Homo sapiens: one gene and its partners. The protein of the gene in region 1 interacts with the protein of each later gene in a pairwise test. Each region holds a gene or a part of one and is shown in the gene's direction. Other genes may lie near its edges.

What was found.
Region 2: the proteins of LIMS1 (region 1) and ZNF564 interact in binary tests that used the Homo sapiens proteins (3 or more experiments, as listed by UniProt).
Region 3: the proteins of LIMS1 (region 1) and COL8A1 interact in binary tests that used the Homo sapiens proteins (3 or more experiments, as listed by UniProt).

Annotation. Positions count from the first base shown.
Region 1 is NC_000002.12:108,529,696-108,537,550, forward strand, and holds the start of LIMS1 (LIM and senescent cell antigen-like-containing domain protein 1), read left to right. Parts: upstream 1-4,774; 5' UTR 4,775-4,867; coding exon 4,868-4,899; intron 4,900-7,855. UniProt on the Homo sapiens protein: Within the IPP (ILK-PINCH-PARVIN) complex, binds to F-actin, promoting F-actin bundling, a process required to generate force for actin cytoskeleton reorganization and subsequent dynamic cell adhesion events such as cell spreading and migration.
Region 2 is NC_000019.10:12,548,462-12,555,705, reverse strand, and holds the start of ZNF564 (zinc finger protein 564), read left to right. Parts: upstream 1-4,223; 5' UTR 4,224-4,373; coding exon 4,374-4,376; intron 4,377-7,244.
Region 3 is NC_000003.12:99,795,543-99,799,784, forward strand, and holds the end of COL8A1 (collagen alpha-1(VIII) chain precursor), read left to right. Parts: coding exon 1-594; 3' UTR 595-3,675; downstream 3,676-4,242. UniProt on the Homo sapiens protein: Macromolecular component of the subendothelium. Major component of the Descemet's membrane (basement membrane) of corneal endothelial cells. Also a component of the endothelia of blood vessels.

The DNA of each region.
Region 1 (7,855 bases):
AAACTTTCTATGATGAACTAAATGTGCCAGTACCAGAAATTCCAGGAAAAACAAGAAATTTGTTTTTGCAATTAGCCGAGCATGTAACCCAGTCTCTCAATGTCACTTCACGTTATGTACGTGGAGAAACTGTAATAGGAGATCAATGGCCACAGGAAGCCCAAGAATTAGTACCTACAGACCAAGTTCCTGATGAATTCCCAGCTCAAAAGAATCACCCTGATAATTTCTAGGTCCTAAAAGCCTCAATTATTGGACAATATTGCATAGCTAGAGAAGGAAGAGAATTCACTCACCCCGTAGGATGACTTAGTTGTCTGAGACAGAAAGTGTATAATGGCACCACAAAAACAGTCACTTGGTGGAGTTCAAGTCACACAGAGAGAAATCCATTTAGTAAATTCCCAAAGTTGCAAACTGTGTGGACCCACCCGGAGTCCCACCGGGACTGGACAGCCCCCACTAGATTGTACTGGATATGTAGGCATAGAGCTTATGCCAAATTACCCGACCAGCAGGCAGGTAGTTGTGTTACTGGCACTATTAAACCATCTTTCTTCCTACTGCCCATAAAAACAGGCGAAATCCTAGGCTTCCCTGTCTATGCTTCCCACGAAAAGAGAAGCATAGCTATAAGAAATTGAAAACATGATAAATGGCCCCCTAAGAGAATCATGCAATATTATAGGCCTGCTACTTAGGCACAAGACGGCTCGTGAGGATACCAGACCCCCATTTGCATGATCAACTGAATCATACGGTTACAAGCTGTCTTAAAAATAACCACTAATAAAACTGGCAGAGCCTTGACTCTTCTGGCCCGGCAATAAACTCAGATGAGAAATGCTATCTATCGAAATAGATTAGCTCTCGACTACTTGCTAGCAGCTGAAGGTGAGGTCTGTAGGAAATTTAACCATACTAATTACTGCCTATACATAGATAATCAAGGGCAAGTAGTTGAAGACATAGTTACAGATATAACAAAATTGACACATGTGCCCGTACAAGTGTGGCATGGATTTGATCCTGAGGCCATGTTTAGAAAATGGTTCCCAGCACTACGAAGATTTAAAACTCTTATAATAAAAGTTATAATAGTAATAGGAACCTGCTTACTGCTCCCTTGTTTGCTACCTGTACTTCTTCAAATGATAAAAAGTTTCATCGCTACCTTAGTTCACCAAAATGCTTCAGCAGAAGTGTACTATATGAATGAATCACTATCGATCTGTCTTGCAGGAAGACATAGATAAGAAAATGAAAGTGAAAACTCCTACTATTGAGTGAGAGTCTCAAAGGGGAGGAATAAGGCAGGAGACCACCCCTCATATTGTCTTATGCCCAATTTCTGCCTCTAAAGAAAGAAAAAGTAAAAACTAAAAGGCAGAAATGAAATCCACAAGCAGACAGCCCGGCCCCACACCCTAGGCCTGGTAGTTAAAGATCGACCTCTGACCTAATCAGTTATGTTATCTATAGATTACAGACACTGTATAGAAAAGCACTGTGAAAATCCCTATCCTGTTTTGTTCCGGTCTAATTACTGGTGCATGCAGCCTCCACTCACGTACCCCCTGCTTGCTCAATCGATCACGACCCTCTCACGTACACCCCCTTAGAGTTGTGAGCCCTTAAAAAGGACAGGAATTGCTCACTCGGGGTGCTTGGCCCTTGAGACAGGAGACTTGCTGATGCCCCCGGCCAGATAAACCCCTTCCTTCAACTCGGAGTCTGAGGAGTTTTGTCTGCGGCTCATCCTGCTACAGGCTCATTGCAAGTTCCGCCTCCTGGATTCACGCCATTCTCCTGCCTCAGCCTCCCAAGTAGCTGGGACTACAGGCGCACACCATCATGCCCAGCATTTTTTTTTTTTTTTTTTTAGTAGAGACGGGGTTTCACCGTGTTAGCCAGGACGGTCTCAATCTCCTGACCTCATGATCTGTCTGCCTTGGCCTCCCAGAGTGCTGGAATTACAGGCCTGAGCCACCGCGCGGCCATTTTCAATTTTAAAAAACTTTTTTATTACAGAAATGTTCACATATACACTAAAGTAGACAAGCTAATATAAAGAATGTAATGTATTTATGAGGTAGTTTCAAGTTATCAACCCACATTCCCCACCCCTACATTTTAAAGTAAATTTCAGTGATGTCATTTAGTGTACAGATAGTTGCCTAGGGACCTTTAAAATTTGTTCTTTCTTTTTTCTTTTTTTTTTTTTTTTGAATCGGGGTCTCACTCTGTCACCCAGGCTGCAGTGCAGTGGTGCAATTATAGCTGGCTGGAACTACAGGTGCACGCCACCATGCCCAGCTAATTTTTAATTTTTTTTTTTTGTAGAGACAAGGCAGGGGGGTCTCCCTTTTCTTCCCAGGCTGGTCTTGGACTCCTAACCTCAAGGGATCCTCCTGCTTCGACCTCCAAAAGTGCTGGGATTACAGGTGTGAGCCACCATGCCCAAATTTGTACATTCTTTTGGTGTACATATAAGAATACATTTGTAAGATAAATTCCAAAATATGAATATCTTGGGTCAAAGAAGAGCTGAATTTTACATTGATAGCTATTGCCCACTTGTTCTTTACAAAGCGTGTATGGATTTATACTCCTATCAACAATAAATTAGCCAGGCATGCTGACGTGCACTCGTAAACCCTGCTATTCAAAAGGATAGTTGAAGTCCAAGAGTTCAAGACCAGTGTGGGTAACATAGAGAGGCCTCCTCTAGGGGAGGAAAAAAGGGTTTCCCTATATCCTCATCAAAACAATATATAGTCAAACTTTTCATCTTTGCATTTGTGAAAAATTGTATTTTATTTTTGTTTTATGATACTTTAAGAAATCATTTGTATTTTTCTGTAGAAACCTGTTTTTCTCTGAGTTGAACATTTTTGTACTGATTTTTTTAATAATTAGAACTTTTTTAATAATTTAGAACTTTTTGTCATACATTTTACAAATATTTTTCTTGGTTGGGGTTTGTTATATTTATTTGCTATGCAGAAAATTTAGATTTCTATGTAGTTACATTTATCAATTTTTATTTATTTATTTAGAGACAGAGTCTTGCTCTGTCGCCCAGGCTGGACTGCAATGGCGCGATCTCGGCTCACTGCAACCTCTGTCTCCCAGGTTCAAGTAATTCTCCTGCCTCAGCCTCCCAAGTAGCTGGGATTACAGGAACCCCGCCACCACAACCGGTGAAATTTTTGTATTTTTATTAGAGACGGGGTTTCACCATGTTGGTCAGGCTGGTCTCAAACTCCTGACCTCAGGTGATCCACTCACCTCAGCCTCTCCAAGTGCTGGGATTACACGCGTGAGTCACCGTGCCCGGCCTACATTTATCAATTTTTAATTTTATGGTTTATATGCTCTTTGAAAAGTCTCTCACCACTCCAACCTTACTTTTGTTTTTTTCCCTTGTTTTCTTCTGGTATTTTCATAACCTCTCTCTTTTTTTTTTTTTTTTTTTTTGTTTTTTGAACATTTAACTATTTGCTTTGTTTGGAATTTACTTTCATGTGAGGACATCAAATAGATCCAGTGTTTTCCTCCGACATGCCTCGACTGGCAGGAGACCAAAGTTTTCATTCTATTACTAGAGAGTAGCTATAGTTACAGAATCAGGTATCCTGAGAGAGATCATTTATGCCCAGGATGAATAACTTGTCTTATCTATTAAATCTATTAAATCCTTTGGAGATTTCACTTTTTTTTTTTTTTTTTTTTGGGACGGAGCCTGTTACCTAGGCTGGAGTGCAGTGGCGCGATCTCCCAGCTCACCACAAGCTCCGCCTCCCAAGTTCAAGCGATTCTCCTGCCTCAGCCTCTCGAGTAGCTGGGATTACAGGCATGTGCCACCACCACGCCCGGCTAATTTTGTATTTTTAGTAGAGACGGGGTTTCTCCATGTTGGTCAGGCTGGTCTCGAACTCCTGACCTCAGGTGATCCGCCTGCCTCAGCCTCCCAAAGTGCTGGGATTACAGGCGTGAGCCACTGCGCCGGCCCCAAAATTTCAGGTTTTGATAGACGGAATGGGTGAAGAAAATGAGAGCTAGCAAGGAAGAACAGGATGCAGAGGCAAGACTGGAAACTCTCCAAGAAAGGTTAACTTTTCTTAACTCACAAGTTAAACAAAGGCTGCAGGCTCCATGCGGAGCTCAGGCACCCAGCGGTGACCGATCCAGACCAGGTCCTCCCGGAAGCCCGGCCTGCCCGACAGAGCCTTACCACAGAGCCCCCTCAGGCGTCCTCGCCAGGACGGGGCGGAACCCTGTGTAGCTCCCACCCCCGGGACGAAGGCCGCTGCCAGGGCCGCGCAGCCACGCGAGTGGAATCAGAGGAGCCTCGAGGCAAGGAGAGCCGGGCCCCGCTCCCTGCGCCCGTCACCGCCATCCTTGTTGTAGGGAACTCGGCCCCCGAGCCGCCGCCGCGCTCCGTGGGCTCCCAATGAGCCCCTACCCCAGCCACCCGCTGCGTTTGCGCCAGCCTCCCAGACTAGCCTGGGGTGCTGAAATGGGGGCGGGCCCGAGCCACGGGTTGGGGCGGGGTCTGATGCGCGCCCCGCCCCGCAACGCCCCGCCCCCCCGCGCCTACCTCTCCAGTCCGCGCCCTTCGGCGCCCGCCCCGCCAGTCCCCGCCCCTCCTTGCCCAGCCGCTCCCGCCCCTCCCCCGCCTTCCCGCGCGGCCCGCCTCGCCTTCCCCCCCCTCCCGCGCCCCCGCGCGGCCGGCCCCTGGCCTTCCTCCCCTTCCTGCTCCGGGCCCGCCAGTAGCCGGCCGCGGCGGCGAGGGACTAGGACGCGGCTGGAGCGGCGCCGGGAGACGAGGGGCTGAGAGACGGCGGCGGCCGAAAGCGGAGAGATGCTGGGCGTGGCGGCCGGGATGACCCACAGGTACGGGCCGCACCGCGCGGCCCCCGCCACGTCCGCCCCGCAGCTCCCGGCGGGCCTTCGGGCCGGGCCGGGCCGGGCCTGGCGCGGGCGGGCGGCCGGGCTTTCCCCGCGGCCTCCCCCGGTCGGCCGGAGCCCCGACCCCCAGCGCTCGGGTGGCGGCGTGGCTGCGTCCGGGCCCGCGGAGGAGACGGCTGCTGTTCACTCCCGGGTGTCCGCGGTGGCACAGGCGCTGACGCCGCCCCGCTGCTCCGAGAGTTCCATAAGACAAATCAGTATTTGCCGAGCTAATCATTTATCTTCTAGCAGTAGGGATCAGCGGGTCGCAGACGTCTTGGTCTCAGGACCCCTCTTGGGACTAGAGGACCTGGAATGGTGGCTATCTCCATAGACTGTACTAGAAAGGAAAACCGAGACACTGAAGTTACTATTAACTCATTGAATAAATCCGTGGTATGTTAACGTACATACCACATTTTTATGCAACATAGGGTTTTGCTAAAACAAAAGAGTTCGTGGGACGACTGGCGTCCTTTACAGTTTGCGAATCTCTTGAGTTGTCTGACTTAGTAGAGACAACTACGTTCTCCCATCTCCTTTGCAGTTCAGTCTGTTGCGGTATGTTTTTATATGAAGAAAATCTGATCTTACACAGATGTGTAGTTGGAAAAGTGAGTACTGTCTTAATAGCTGTTTCAGATAATTATGGGTATTCTTTATTACTACACCAAAACTACGTAAGTGGAAGTTTCTCAAAGGCTGGTTTGGACGTGGAATCTGAAGCTACTGTCAGCGGACTTTTCACACAGTTTCGTTAAAATTCCTTGGTCTGTCTTGCAGTTTGAATGCAGCTAAAGCTCCTGTCAGTGGCCTTTGCACACAGTTACGTTAAAATTCCTTGGTCTGTCTTGCAGTTTGAATGCAGCTGTTACCCATTGTAACACCATATATTTGTCGTTTGGAAGATATTGGCTCACTGAGTTTGGCAGATCTCAAGCTGACGCATTTCATTAATAGCGCCGAATAACATTCGTTACCATCGCTATTGATTTCATTAGGAAAGTCTTTATGTTAAAAGCCGTCAGATACAAGGTGGTGTTTACAAGTTTTCCAAAATTCTCATTTTCGGTTGAAAGCTTGCTTTTTATCATTGGGAGCAAAATATTGTCAATTGTTTTCCTCAAAGTGACAGACTCACTTTGTTCAGTTTCAAGGAAGTGTCCGGCAATACAGGTTTAAATAACCCTAGTTTGTCAGTTGTTCTTTCCCGTAAAAATGGTATTTCATGACACAAGCAAGTTAATTCAGCTCATCGCTCTATTACAGAAGTGCACGCCTGCCATTTGGTCACAAGTAACAAAAAAGAGTCAAAGCTCAAGATTTGATAACAATAATTTGTACTCCTTCATCATGGACTTTTTTCCTTAAAAAAAAGTATTGACTAGTAAGTTGATATAAAATTTAAAGTATTTGTGAGATATTAAGAATAACGGATATGTAGTGTAATAAAGGAGATAATAGTTTCCTTTTAAGACCTTCAAACCTCTCTGGTCCAGTGTCTCTCCGCATCCTATCCCCTTCCCATCCTGAATTTACCATTAGTAATTTACTTTTTGGAGGGAGAGTAATAAGTTCATTCAAATTATTGTGCATCCGTAACCATCATACATGTCCAGAAATCTTTATCTTACAAAACTGAAACTCTGTACCTATTAAACAATAATTCTCCATTCCCCTCCTCCCGCCAGTCCCTGGCAGCCATCATTTTAATTTCTGTCTATGACTTTGACTACTGCTGGTACCTCATATCTCATGTAAGTGGAATCATACGCTATTTGTTGTGCATGTCATAGTTTGTTCCTTTTTGTTGCTCAGTAGTGCTCCATGGTATGGATGTACAGCAGTTTAACTGTTCACATGTTTGAAGGACATTCAGGCTGTTAGTTTTGGGCTATTAAGAAAGCTACTACGAACAAATAGACAGGTGTTTGTTGTTGTTTTTGAGACAGTGTCTTGCTTAGTCACCCAGACTGGAGTGGAATGCAGTAGCATGATCATGACTTACTGCACCCTAGACCTCCCAGGCTGAAGCAATCCTTCCACCTCAGTCCCCCAAGTAGCTGGGACTACAGACACACGCCACCATGCCTGGATAATTTTTGTATTTTTTTGGTAGAAACAGGGTTTCGCCATGTTGTCCAGGCTAGTCTGGGGGTCCCAAACTCCTGGGTTCCAGCAGTCCACCCACCTCAGCCTCCCAAAGTGCTGGAATTTTAGAGCCACTGTGCTCAGCCTGTCTAAGTTTTATGTGAATGTAACTTTTCCTTTTCTGGGATAAATGTCCAAGAGTGTGCAATTGGCAGGTTGTACAGAAATCGTATGTTTAGTTTTTTGAGAAACTGACAGTTTTTTTCCAGCATGACTGTACCATTTCACTTAAAAAGTGAAATTGACATTATTTTCCTGTGAGTACATAAAGGTAAAGAATTCAGGGACAGTACCACGGCCCTCTTTAGTGCTAAGCGGCCAGCAGTTGTACCGACTGTTGTTTTTGCACTATCTGTGTGTCAACACAGTCCACAATGCTACAGTGACTTCTTAGGAATATCTTAGTATGATGAAAATAGTTTTGATCTCTCGGATCCCTTAGAAAGGTCTTGGAGACCCTCAGGAGTTCAAGGCCATACTTTAAGAACCACTGTTAAAGACATAATCCTAAATGATGAAGGATATGCAGGTATTGGGGATATTTAAAAAGGAACAAATACAAGGTTTCTCTTAAAATTGCTCTTGAATGCTTGTGGTAGTGTGTGCCTTGTAGTTTTGGCTAGTTTTAGTAGGATGTAATAACTAAGACTTGGACCACCATGGAAGAAGCAACTTTCTGCCTTTCAGGATTTTCCCTGATAAGAAAATGGCCAGTGCCATTATGAAGAGGGACAATGCCATGGGCCTAAGT
Region 2 (7,244 bases), on another chromosome or scaffold:
TGGTCTAAAGCAAGGCGGCCGAGCCTGTGTCCCTAGACCGCCTCCAGGGCCCTCTGCACCCTGACGCCCCATCGCGACCGCCCCGCTTCCCGCCCGCCGCTCCCGCAGCCACCTGGAGGCGCTGCGTCTCGGCTGGGGCTTCGTCTGTGCCCGGCACAGCGAGGGCCCCGGTGTCTGCGGGGCAGGGGCCGCGGCCTGTCCCGGGACATCCCCGCCCTCCAGCTCACCTGCCTGCTTGGGACTCGGCAAGCCGGCCGCACTCTGCGTCTCACCGCGCTCTCTGTACCATTTTACATTTCCACCACCAAAGTAGGAGTAGGAGTAGGAGTAGAATCCAGTTTCTCTTATGTCCTCCCCAGCACTGGTATAATCCTTCCTTCCTTCCTTCCTTCCTTTCTTTCTTTCTTCCTTCCTTCTTCTTTCTCTTTCTCTCTCTTTCCTTCCCTCCCTTCTTTCTTTCTCTCTCTCTTTTTTTTTTTTTTTTTGAGATGGAGTCTCACTCTGTCACCCAGGCTGGAGTGCAGTGGCACGATCTTGACTCACTGCAACCTCCACCTCCCAGGTTCAAGTGATTCTCGTGCCTCAGCCTCCCGAGTAGCTGGGAGTACAGGCGCCCGCCACCACGCCCAGCTAATTTTTTGTATTTTTAGTAGAGACGGGATTTCGCCATGTTGGCCAGGCTGGTCTCGAACTCCCGAGCTCAGGCAATCCACCCACCCCGGCCTCCCAAAGTGCTGGGATTACAGGCGTGAGCCACCGCACTGCACCCGGCCCTCCCTCTTTCTCTCTTTCTTTTCTCTCCTCTCCTCTCTCTTTCTTTCTTTTTCTTTCTCTCTCTCTCCCCCTCCCTCCCTCCCTCTCTTTCTTTCTTTCTTTCGACAGGGTCTTGCTCTGTCACCCAGGCTGAAGTGCAGTGGCAAGATCTCGGCTCACTGCAACCTCTGCCTGGTGGGTTCAATGATTCTCCTGCCTCAGCCTCCTGAGTAGCTGGGATTACAGGCATGTACCACCACACCATGTGCTGCCACGCCATGTGACGCCACACCTAAAACAGTTTTAAAGAAAGGAGACAAAAAATTATTAGGCTGGGCACAGTGGCTCTTGCCTGTAATCCCATCACTTTGGGAGGCGGAGGCGGGTGGATCTCTTGATGTCAGGAGCTCAGGACCAGTCTGGCCAATATGGTGAAACCCCATCTCTACTAAAAATACAAAAATTAGCCAGGCTTAGTGGCACACACTTGTAATCCCAGCTACTCAGGAGGCTGGGGCAGGAGAATCGCTTGAACCCTAGGAGTCGGAAGTTGCAGTGAGCAACTTGAGATCTCGCCACTGCACTCCAGCCTGGCGACAGAGCAAGACTCCGTCTCAAAATAATAATAATAATACATAAAAAGAAAAATATTTTTTTCTGAGACGGAGTCTCACTCTGTCGGCCAGGCTGCAGTGCAGTAGTGATCTCGGCTCACTGCAACCTCTGCCTCCTGGGTTCAAGTGATTCTCCTGGCTCAGCCTCCCAAGTAGCTGGGACTACAAGTAGCTGGGACTACAGGCACGCGCCACCACGCCCAGCTAATTTTTGTATTTTTAGTAGAGACGGGGGTTTCACCATGTTGGCCAGGAGGGTCTCGATCTCTTGACCTCATGATCCGCCCACCTCAGCCTCCTGAAGTGCTGGGATTATAGGCATGAGCCACCGCGTCCGGCCTTTTTATTTATTTTTCATAGAGATGGGGTCTCGACATCTTTCCCAGGCTGGTCTTGAATTCCTGGGCTCGAGCAATCCTCCCTCCGCAGCCTCCCAAAGTGCTGGGATTACAGGCGTGAACCACTGCATCCAACCCCTGTCCAGATAATTTTTGGCTTCTGTGTAGCATTCCTTTCCCCAGCGTACAGGACAGGACACTCTTTGGAGTGAGAGTCTTATGACCCACGATCACATTAGAGTTCTGCAGTGGACAGGTGAATGGGGGGCAGGAGAAGGTCAGAGAGAGAGAGTTTCTGTTTACTGTAACAAGGACTATGGGAGTTATGAGTCAGGAAGCATGGATGGAAACCAATGTATAAATCATAATAGCATAGCTGATATCTTTGTTTTCTCAAAGGAATCATTACTTGCCAGTTTTAAAATCCATATAAAGTATTTTAGAATTTTTTGTCTTCCAGCTTATACATAACCACAGAAGGAAAGCAGGAACTCTGCTAGTTTCTTAAAAACAAACAAACAGCAAAGGGGATTGAAGGTCTTTTTTCTTACCTAAGTGGATCAGTGTTGGTGAGAAGCAAGTGAATAAACTGCAGTGGGCAGGAGAGCCTGAGACCAGTCTGGAGCCTGCAAAGAGAGGGAAAGGGTGCTTCTTGGGCAGCCTGCCCGCCCTTGCAGGTGGCCTCCAGCTGCTCAGGAGTGCAGATTCTTTTTTTAATTTTAATTTTATTTTTTACTTTTATTATTTTTTTGAGGCAGAGTCTCACTGTTTTGGCACCCAGGCTGGAGTGCAGTGGCGCAGTCTGGGCTTACTGCAACCTCTGCCTCCCGGGTTCAAGCGGTTCTCCTGCCTCAGCCTCCCGAGTGGCTGGGATTACAGGCACGCGCCACCACGCCCGGCTAATTTTTGTATTTTTACTATAGACGAGGTTTCACCATTTGGCCAGGCTGGTCTCGAACTCCTGACCTCAGGTGATCCGCCCGCCTGGGCCTCTCAAAGTGCTGGCGTGAGCCACCGCGCCTGGCCAGGAATGTGGATTCTGAGAAGCTGCAGAGCTGTGAAAAGCAGGAGACCCATGTGCAGATGTGGTTGGGTTGGGGGTGGAGGGTTCTGTCTTTTCTGAGGTTGTACCTTTGGCGCCTGGGGCCATTTCCTGGACAGTGTTTTGGTTTTAGCATTCATGGGGTCGCTGAGTCAGGCTGTAATTTGTATACATGAAGAAAATCTGTGAGGGTCAGACTCAGTGAAAAACTTGTTTGCATTGTCCCCTGGAGAAAAGGTTTGGGAACATGACAATTTATTTAGGTCACGACTTTACATTGACTCCGGGTGAGAGTTTCCTGCTGGTACAAATGAAGGTTTTGAAGGAAAGAGTGTTTCCACACTGTGAGGAGAGGACTGGAGGGCACCTTGAGCTCCCAAAGTTGAATTCTTAAGTGTCCCTGTCTCATCACCAGGTTCTGATCCACACTGGGGTTCCATTTCAGCAGTTAGAGTCTGGGTCCCAAGCTTGGGATTATTTTATTTTATATTTCATTTCTTCATTTCATTATTTCATTTCATTTCATATTTCATTTTTTAGTCTCGCTCTGTCGCCCAGGCTGGAGTGCAATGGCGCTATCTCGGCTCACTGCAACTTCCCCCTCCCAGGTTCAAGCGATTCTCGTACCTCAGCTTCCCGAGTTGCTGGGATTACAGGCACCTGCCACCACGCCTGGCTAATTTTTGTATTTTTAGTAGAGATGGGGTTTCACCATGTTGGTTAGGCTGGTCTTGAACTCCTGACCTTAAGCAATTTTCTCACCTTGGCCTTCCAAAGTTCTGGGATTACAGGCGTGAGCCACCGCGCCCGGCGCTTGGGAATATTTTTAACGTTATGATTGTGGGTTTTCCTTGTGAACTGCGGGTGAAGCAGGCTGCTTGTCTGAGCTAGTTCAAATGTTTGCTTACTTCTCTTGGTTTCTTTATAGATGATCGCTGTCATAAAAACTCCAGTTTTTCCTATACATTTAATACTTTTATTTCTTTGTCCGTTTTAATTTTCTTGCCTGAAAGAAGCAAGCCCTCCTCCCTCCTGTTACACTGTGGTCTGGCCTGGCCTGGGCGCGCCTCCTACTCCGAGGCCAGGGGATGGCTCCACTGGACGCCGAGTCTGTCATTCCCTGTGCACACTTGTGACTCTGTGTCCGGGAGGAAAAGGCAGGAAGGGCACCCTGAGTGCAGAAACACGCCAGTGTCACCTCTGCAGAGCCTGAAACACTTTCTGCTTAAATGCAAATATCCTCCCCGGCACAGAAGGTTACAGAAGGAGGAAGCCCGGCCCGCGAAGGGCAGTGGCCAAGACCCTGTCAATCTGTCTTTACTCAGCCACATACCGCATTGCTTCTCCTGTCACTCAGTACCAAGGGGGCAGGACTTGAATCATCACCCAATCAGGGGCACTGGGGCGGGAACCTGCAAACCATCCAATCAGGAACTCTGCAAGGGGGACAGGGGCAATGTTCAACAACTCCGCGGGGTCTTCCTGTTTCGTGTCCGCTGCGTTTGGGTTCCGGTCTCCGCTTCTCCAGTGGCCCCGGTGGCTCCACCGCAGCGTCTGGCGCGCTGGGACCTGCACAGGCCGGAGAGAGCCGTAGGCAGGACCCCGGGACACCCTGGAAGCCAGGAAATGGTGCGTGTGCGGGGCCGGGCGCCTGGAGACTGGGGGAGGGGCTTGTGGGAACCGGCCGGAACCGGCTGTGGAAGCACCCTGGCCTCCCTGCAGCGACTCCAGGGTCTGGGACCCGAGTTCCCTGGCGCAGCTCGGCCCTCTGTCCCCTCGGCCGCAGGGTGGGTTGGGCCGTAGCCAGTACCCCAGGCGTCCTGTCCCGTCCCTGCGCGGCGACTGCGGCCTCGGCCTCGGAGCCCTGTCTGGGCAGCTCCGCGCCCGCAGCCCCGCCTCTCTCCAGATTGTTTGTACTGGGACACGGGAGGGTCATAAGGCGGAATCCCGTCTCGGGTGTGCGGTTCGTGCATGGGAAGAGCTGTGGGCTGTGGCCTTCCCAGTACATCGTCTTTTTTTCCGGGGGACTGGTCTTCCTCCGAGTCTTCCAAACGTACTGGAAAAAGAATCTCAAACCTACGACTCCCGTTTTTTTTAGCCTAGCTTTTTCTGGGGCTGGAAATAAATGCCTAAATTTCCGGTTCCTTCCCCGCATTCCCAAAGGTGACCTCCCCTCGCCAAATCAACATTATCAGCTGTTTTTTGTTTGACATTTAAGACACAGTATTTTAGTTGTTTATAGTTTCTTTCACCATACTCTTTTGAAAGGATTTGTTTTCTGTTTGTTGTTTTTTTTTTCTTTTCAGACAGAGTTTCGCTCTGTCGCCCAGGCTGGAGTGCAGTGGGAAGATCTCAGCTCACTGCAACCTTCGCCTTCCGGGTTCAAGCAATTCTCCTGCCTCAGCCTCCTGAGTAACTGGGATTACAGGCATGCGCCGCCACGACCGGCTACTTTTTGTATTTTTGGTAGAAACTGGGTTTCTCCATGTTGGCCAGGTTGGTCTCAAACTCCAGACCTCAGGTGATCCGCTCACCTCCGCCTCCCAAAATGCTGGTATTACAGACGTGAGCCACCGCGCCCGGCCTCTTGTTTGTGTACTTGTAACCTGAGAGGGAAACGGAGAATAAGAACCTGACACTCTACGGTAAAATTTTTTTTTTTTTTTGAGACAGAGTTTCGCTCTTATTGCCCAGGCTGGAGTGCAATGGCGCGATCTCAGCTCACTGCAACCTCCACCTCCTGGGTTCAAGCGATTCTCCTGCCTCAGCCTCCCGTGTAACTGGGATTACAGGCATGCGCCACCATGCCCGGCTAATTTTGTATTTTTAGTAGAGACAGGGTTTCTCCATGTTGGCCAGGCTGGTCTCGAACTCCCGACCTCAGGTGATCCGCCTGCCTCGGCCTCCCAAAGTGCTGGGATTACAGGCGTGAGCCACCGCGCCCGGCCGTGGTAAAAAAATTTTTGTGCTTCCCCTCCTTTTATCTTTCCTAAGCCCCGACGCCTAATCAGAATGTCTTTGGGTGGAGTTTCCCCTTTGGAAACTTTACAAGGTGATGTGGCCCTCTATCTTTTCCTGGTCCTGATTTTCAGAACTGCCTGGGCCTGACCCAGGATACCCACAGCTGCCACTTCTCTTGGAGGATCTAGTGATTATCAACCCCTGGGTCACTCCTCCCAGAGGACAGCTTAAGGTGTAGGGGTGGGGCCTCTCACGGGAGCAGCTGTATGCCCTGAGGTGGGAGGAGTCTCCCGGTATCCCCTTCCTCTGAAAAGTTTACCCTTTGGGACGCTCAGCTTTTCTTCCTCAACCCCAGTTTCCGTTCCTTAGGGACACATTGATGGTTACCCAATCTTAGGCTGTTACTGAGAGGAAAAGACACAAATGATTCCTGACCTCTGGATTGTTTTTAGTCTAGTGAAGGGAGGAAAACTATCTCAAAGGAGAAGGAAAACCTGCCCCATTGAAATGGTGCGAGAACCTGAAAGTTAAAATGCGCTTGGGGCAGAGTGAGCAGGGCACAATTCACTGTCTTCAGGGAGGTTGGTCACTGAGCACTCAGTGAGCCAGGGTGGGGCTGGGAGATGTCCTAGGGGATAGGGTGACCTCACCTGACATTGGAATCAGATAAATGTCTGTATTCCAGGTCAGCATTGCCTCTCCCTGGGTTTGTAAACCCTTGAAAAGGTTTATTTGCTTATTTGATCCTGTTTTTCATTAAATGTAGAATGTATTTTATCAGTAGTGCTTGAAAGACAAGATAAAGTGTTTGCAAAGGGAGGGTCACAAAGGGGAGAAAGAGGCAGAAAGTAGATTTGAGGGAAAACAATTATCTAGTCTTACATTCAATTTGTTAAAAAATCTTATTTGTGTAGTTTCCTCTCCGCAACATGTATGGTAGGTTTCTCAGGTCTATTTTCTTCTTTTGGGTGATTTCAGATCAATCCCAGAACTTAGCCTTGAGAATGCTACTGCGGATAAGAATCTCAGATAAGTAGGGAAATTCAGTCTTCCATTATGGCTACAGAGAAACGAATACATTTCCACATTAATTGGTGAAATACAGAGATTCTCTAAAATATCTTCTCCTTTGCAGGGTAGAGATTTTGTCGTAATGGATAACTGTTCTGTATCCTTTCATCTGGACTTTGGTGATTAATGCTAAATCCTATCAGATGGGACTTTGAAATATTAAATATTAGTGAATTAAATATTAGTAAAGAAGTTGTCATGGAAGTAACAATAATGTGAGGTCTCTATTGTCTGAAAGGGATAGATAAATGTGCTTTTCATGTTTAAGCTATAGAATACAAATGTCTTGCCAGCCGCGATGGCTGACGCCTGTTATCCCAGCACCAAGGCAGGTGGATCACGAGGTCAGGAGATCGCGACCATCCTGGCTAACATGGTGAAACCCCGTCTCTACTAAAAAATACAAAAAATTGGCCGGGCACGGTGGCTCACGCCTTTAATCCCAGCACTTTGGGAGGCCAAGGT
Region 3 (4,242 bases), on another chromosome or scaffold:
GGTGCCCTTGGTCCTCAAGGCCAGCCTGGCCTTCCAGGACCCCCAGGCCCTCCAGGACCTCCAGGACCCCCAGCTGTGATGCCCCCTACACCACCACCCCAGGGAGAGTATCTGCCAGATATGGGGCTGGGAATTGATGGCGTGAAACCCCCCCATGCCTACGGGGCTAAGAAAGGCAAGAATGGAGGGCCAGCCTATGAGATGCCTGCATTTACCGCCGAGCTAACCGCACCTTTCCCACCGGTGGGGGCCCCAGTGAAGTTTAACAAACTGCTGTATAACGGCAGACAGAACTACAACCCGCAGACAGGCATCTTCACCTGTGAGGTCCCTGGTGTCTACTACTTTGCATACCACGTTCACTGCAAGGGGGGCAACGTGTGGGTTGCTCTATTCAAGAACAACGAGCCCGTGATGTACACGTACGACGAGTACAAAAAGGGCTTCCTGGACCAGGCATCTGGGAGTGCAGTGCTGCTGCTCAGGCCCGGAGACCGGGTGTTCCTCCAGATGCCCTCAGAACAGGCTGCAGGACTGTATGCCGGGCAGTATGTCCACTCCTCCTTTTCAGGATATTTATTGTATCCCATGTAAAAACAAAAAAACAAAAAACAAAGAAAAGAAAGAGATTTTATAGAAGAAAATGACACACCAAAAAATCCAAATGAAAAACATAATTGCTTCAAAACACTTACACAGTTGGAAAGTTATATGTAAGTGAAAATTTGGACCATTGTGTACAAATAAAAACTAAGATGCATGTTTAATACTCCACACAGCAGCCTGTAATTGCGAATGATGGGATAGAGTTATGTATCAAGTACTGACACTTGGTTGTACCCACTGGAATCATATTAGCTGTTTTATGTTATATGCTTCCACAGTAACCTGCTTATTCAGATCAGTCAAAATATATCAGTATGAAAGATCATAGCTAATGAAAGGCACTCACTCATATTGTTTACTTTAAAATATTTATAAATATGCCTTAAAGAAATACAAATGATAACAATTACATACCGTATTTACTTGCTTAATTTCCTCTGTATTTGTGTAGATACTTTGACATGGAATATATGGTGGGGAGACCCGTAGTGTTACCGCCCCAGTGGGAGGGGGCCCTGGGGACCCTGGTAATGCTTTAGTCAAAGGGATATCTCTCTTGTATCAGAGGCTGTGTCTTTTAGTAACAGGAGTCCTCGTCAGAATTGCGTGTCTGTTGTCTCTAAAAGAATGGGTGAACCAATCGGCCTTTGTGAATTTATTCAGTGCCTTCTCTGTACCAAGCACTGGGTAAGGCACTTTTGTGGAGCATTAGACAGTAACCCTCAAGGAGCTAGAGAACCGGATGGGAGACATGAGCAGTAATTAACTCACTTGTTCCCCAGAGTTTCTATTTGTTTTGATTTTCTTTTTCTGTGACTTATTTTCCTATTTTCTTTCCTCCATGTAATTTTCACTATGGCCCAACTAATATAAACACCTGGAAATTACAAGGAAAAAAAATTCTTCCTCTAATAACTTTCCAAATTTGTGGAATATTTATTTGTAATAGCAGTTATCAGTTATGCTTATATAGCATTAAAAATTCTCCTCCTTTGACTACACACACAACCACAGTGTGGTTCTAATCATGGAGATATCAGTAATTTTTAGTAACTGAATTTTGAGGACATTTCTCTGTTTAGCATGTATGCAAACTGATATGTAATCTGAGGTTCCAAAGTCAATTTTTTTCTTTTTTTTTTGAGATGGAGTCTTACTCTGTCACCCAGGCTGGAGTGCAGTAGCACGATCTTGGCTTACTGCAACCTCTACCTCCTAGGTTCAAGCAATTGTCCTGTCTCAGCCTCCCGAGTACTGGGACTACTGTCTTGCGCCACCATGCCTGGCTAATTTTTGTATATTTAGTAAAGATGGGTTTTCGCCATGTTGGCCAGGCTGGTCTCAAACTCCTGGCCTCAAGTGATGCACCTGCCTCAGCCTTCCAAAGTGCTGGGATTACAGGCATGAGCCACCGTGCCCGGCCAAAGTCAGCTTTCAAAATCCAAGCCATAATTGGTGAGGGGGGAGTTTCAGAATTACATAGAAAAATTAATATTTGAAAAAATAATTCTGAAATTTCGAATTTAAAAACAGATGTGCTGCTTCTGGGTGTAGGTAGTAAAAGTATAGGAAAAGAACTGTTTCCTTAGAAGCGGACTGTGGAAGGGCTATGTAGAATGTCAAAGGGCAACAAGAGCCTGTGTTTTTAATGTCATCCTGTACTCGGCACAAATCAAAGGCCAATACAAGTCTGAAAAGCAGAAATAAATATTTTTCCAGGTTTTTGCTTGGGCACATACTAACTGCTTTGGGCATTCTAATCTGGTCTCCAAACACCAAAGACCCATTTCGAGCCTGCTATTAGCCTGCTGCTGACTCTATCACTTGGAGCAATAATGTGGGGTTATGGTGGTGGAATCTTGTATATTTTTGTCAAAAATAAAACCATGAGTTAAGGGGATAGATATAGATGGAAAAATACACAAATAAATACGGTATGAAAACACATGGAAATGTGTCTTTGTCAAATCTGAATCATTATTACCATCACAAAAATTCTTCTCTTGGCCAATATCTCATTTCCCTATATAGTATACAAGCACCATTTCTTCTCAATTTTTAAGAAGAGAAATTAGTCCATTACCACAGGGGTTCTTGTCACTACTAATTATACAACAATCTTTTCCCAACAAAAAGATGTCCTCCACAACCTTTGTTTTCAAAGCAGACAGCATCTATGTGGCCAAATATACTTTGGGTTGTTCTTGAGGATACTGGTTTTGGGCTGATGACTATGGTGGGCAGCATGGATCCATTGGGCTCCTTCTGCTAAACAGCCACATTGAAATGGTTTAAAAGCAAGTCAGATCAGGTGATTTGTAAAATTGTATTTATCTGTACATGTATGGGCTTTTAATTCCCACCAAGAAAGAGAGAAATTATCTTTTTAGTTAAAACCAAATTTCACTTTTCAAAATATCTTCCAACTTATTTATTGGTTGTCACTCAATTGCCTATATATATATATATATGTGTGTGTGTGTGTGTGTGCGCGTGAGCGCACGTGTGTGTATGCGTGCGCATGTGTGTGTATGTGTATTATCAGACATAGGTTTCTAACTTTTAGATAGAAGAGGAGCAACATCTATGCCAAATACTGTGCATTCTACAATGGTGCTAATCTCAGACCTAAATGATACTCCATTTAATTTAAAAAAGAGTTTTAAATAATTATCTATGTGCCTGTATTTCCCTTTTGAGTGCTGCACAACATGTTAACATATTAGTGTAAAAGCAGATGAAACAACCACGTGTTCTAAAGTCTAGGGATTGTGCTATAATCCCTATTTAGTTCAAAATTAACCAGAATTCTTCCATGTGAAATGGACCAAACTCATATTATTGTTATGTAAATACAGAGTTTTAATGCAGTATGACATCCCACAGGGGAAAAGAATGTCTGTAGTGGGTGACTGTTATCAAATATTTTATAGAATACAATGAACGGTGAACAGACTGGTAACTTGTTTGAGTTCCCATGACAGATTTGAGACTTGTCAATAGCAAATCATTTTTGTATTTAAATTTTTGTACTGATTTGAAAAACATCATTAAATATCTTTAAAAGTATGTTTCTCATCTTGTTCGTATCATTCAGTTGACACTGAACCTCACAAGTATTTTTAAATTCGTACTCTCATGAATTAGCTGCTGAAATAGAGACCTAAAATAAGCATAGCTTATACAGAACAATTTATTCCTCTTTGACTTAAGAGCTCCTAGGATAAGCAGTCTAGGACTCACATGGTAATTCCAATCACAGCCCCAGGCTCCTTCCATCTTATTGCTCTTCTACATCAAGGGTGTTGCCCTCATCTCCATGGTCCAGGATACTAACCATCAGTCACATTCTATCCCCGGGGAGGATGAACAAAGCAGGAAGGACAGGACATGCTTTTTGTCTTAAAGGACTCAACCTAGCAGCTGCTTGGATCACTGTCTCCCACATCCCGTGGCTCCAAATTTAGTCACGTGACCACAAGAAGCTGTAAGGAAGTGTGGGAAATTGAATAGTCTATGTAACCATATGCCCAGCTAAAAATCAGGGGTTCTAGTAGTATGGGAGAAGAGAGAATCAATATTAGGGAATAATTAGCTGCTGCATCTTCCACTTCCATCAAAAAAGAAAAAATGGCC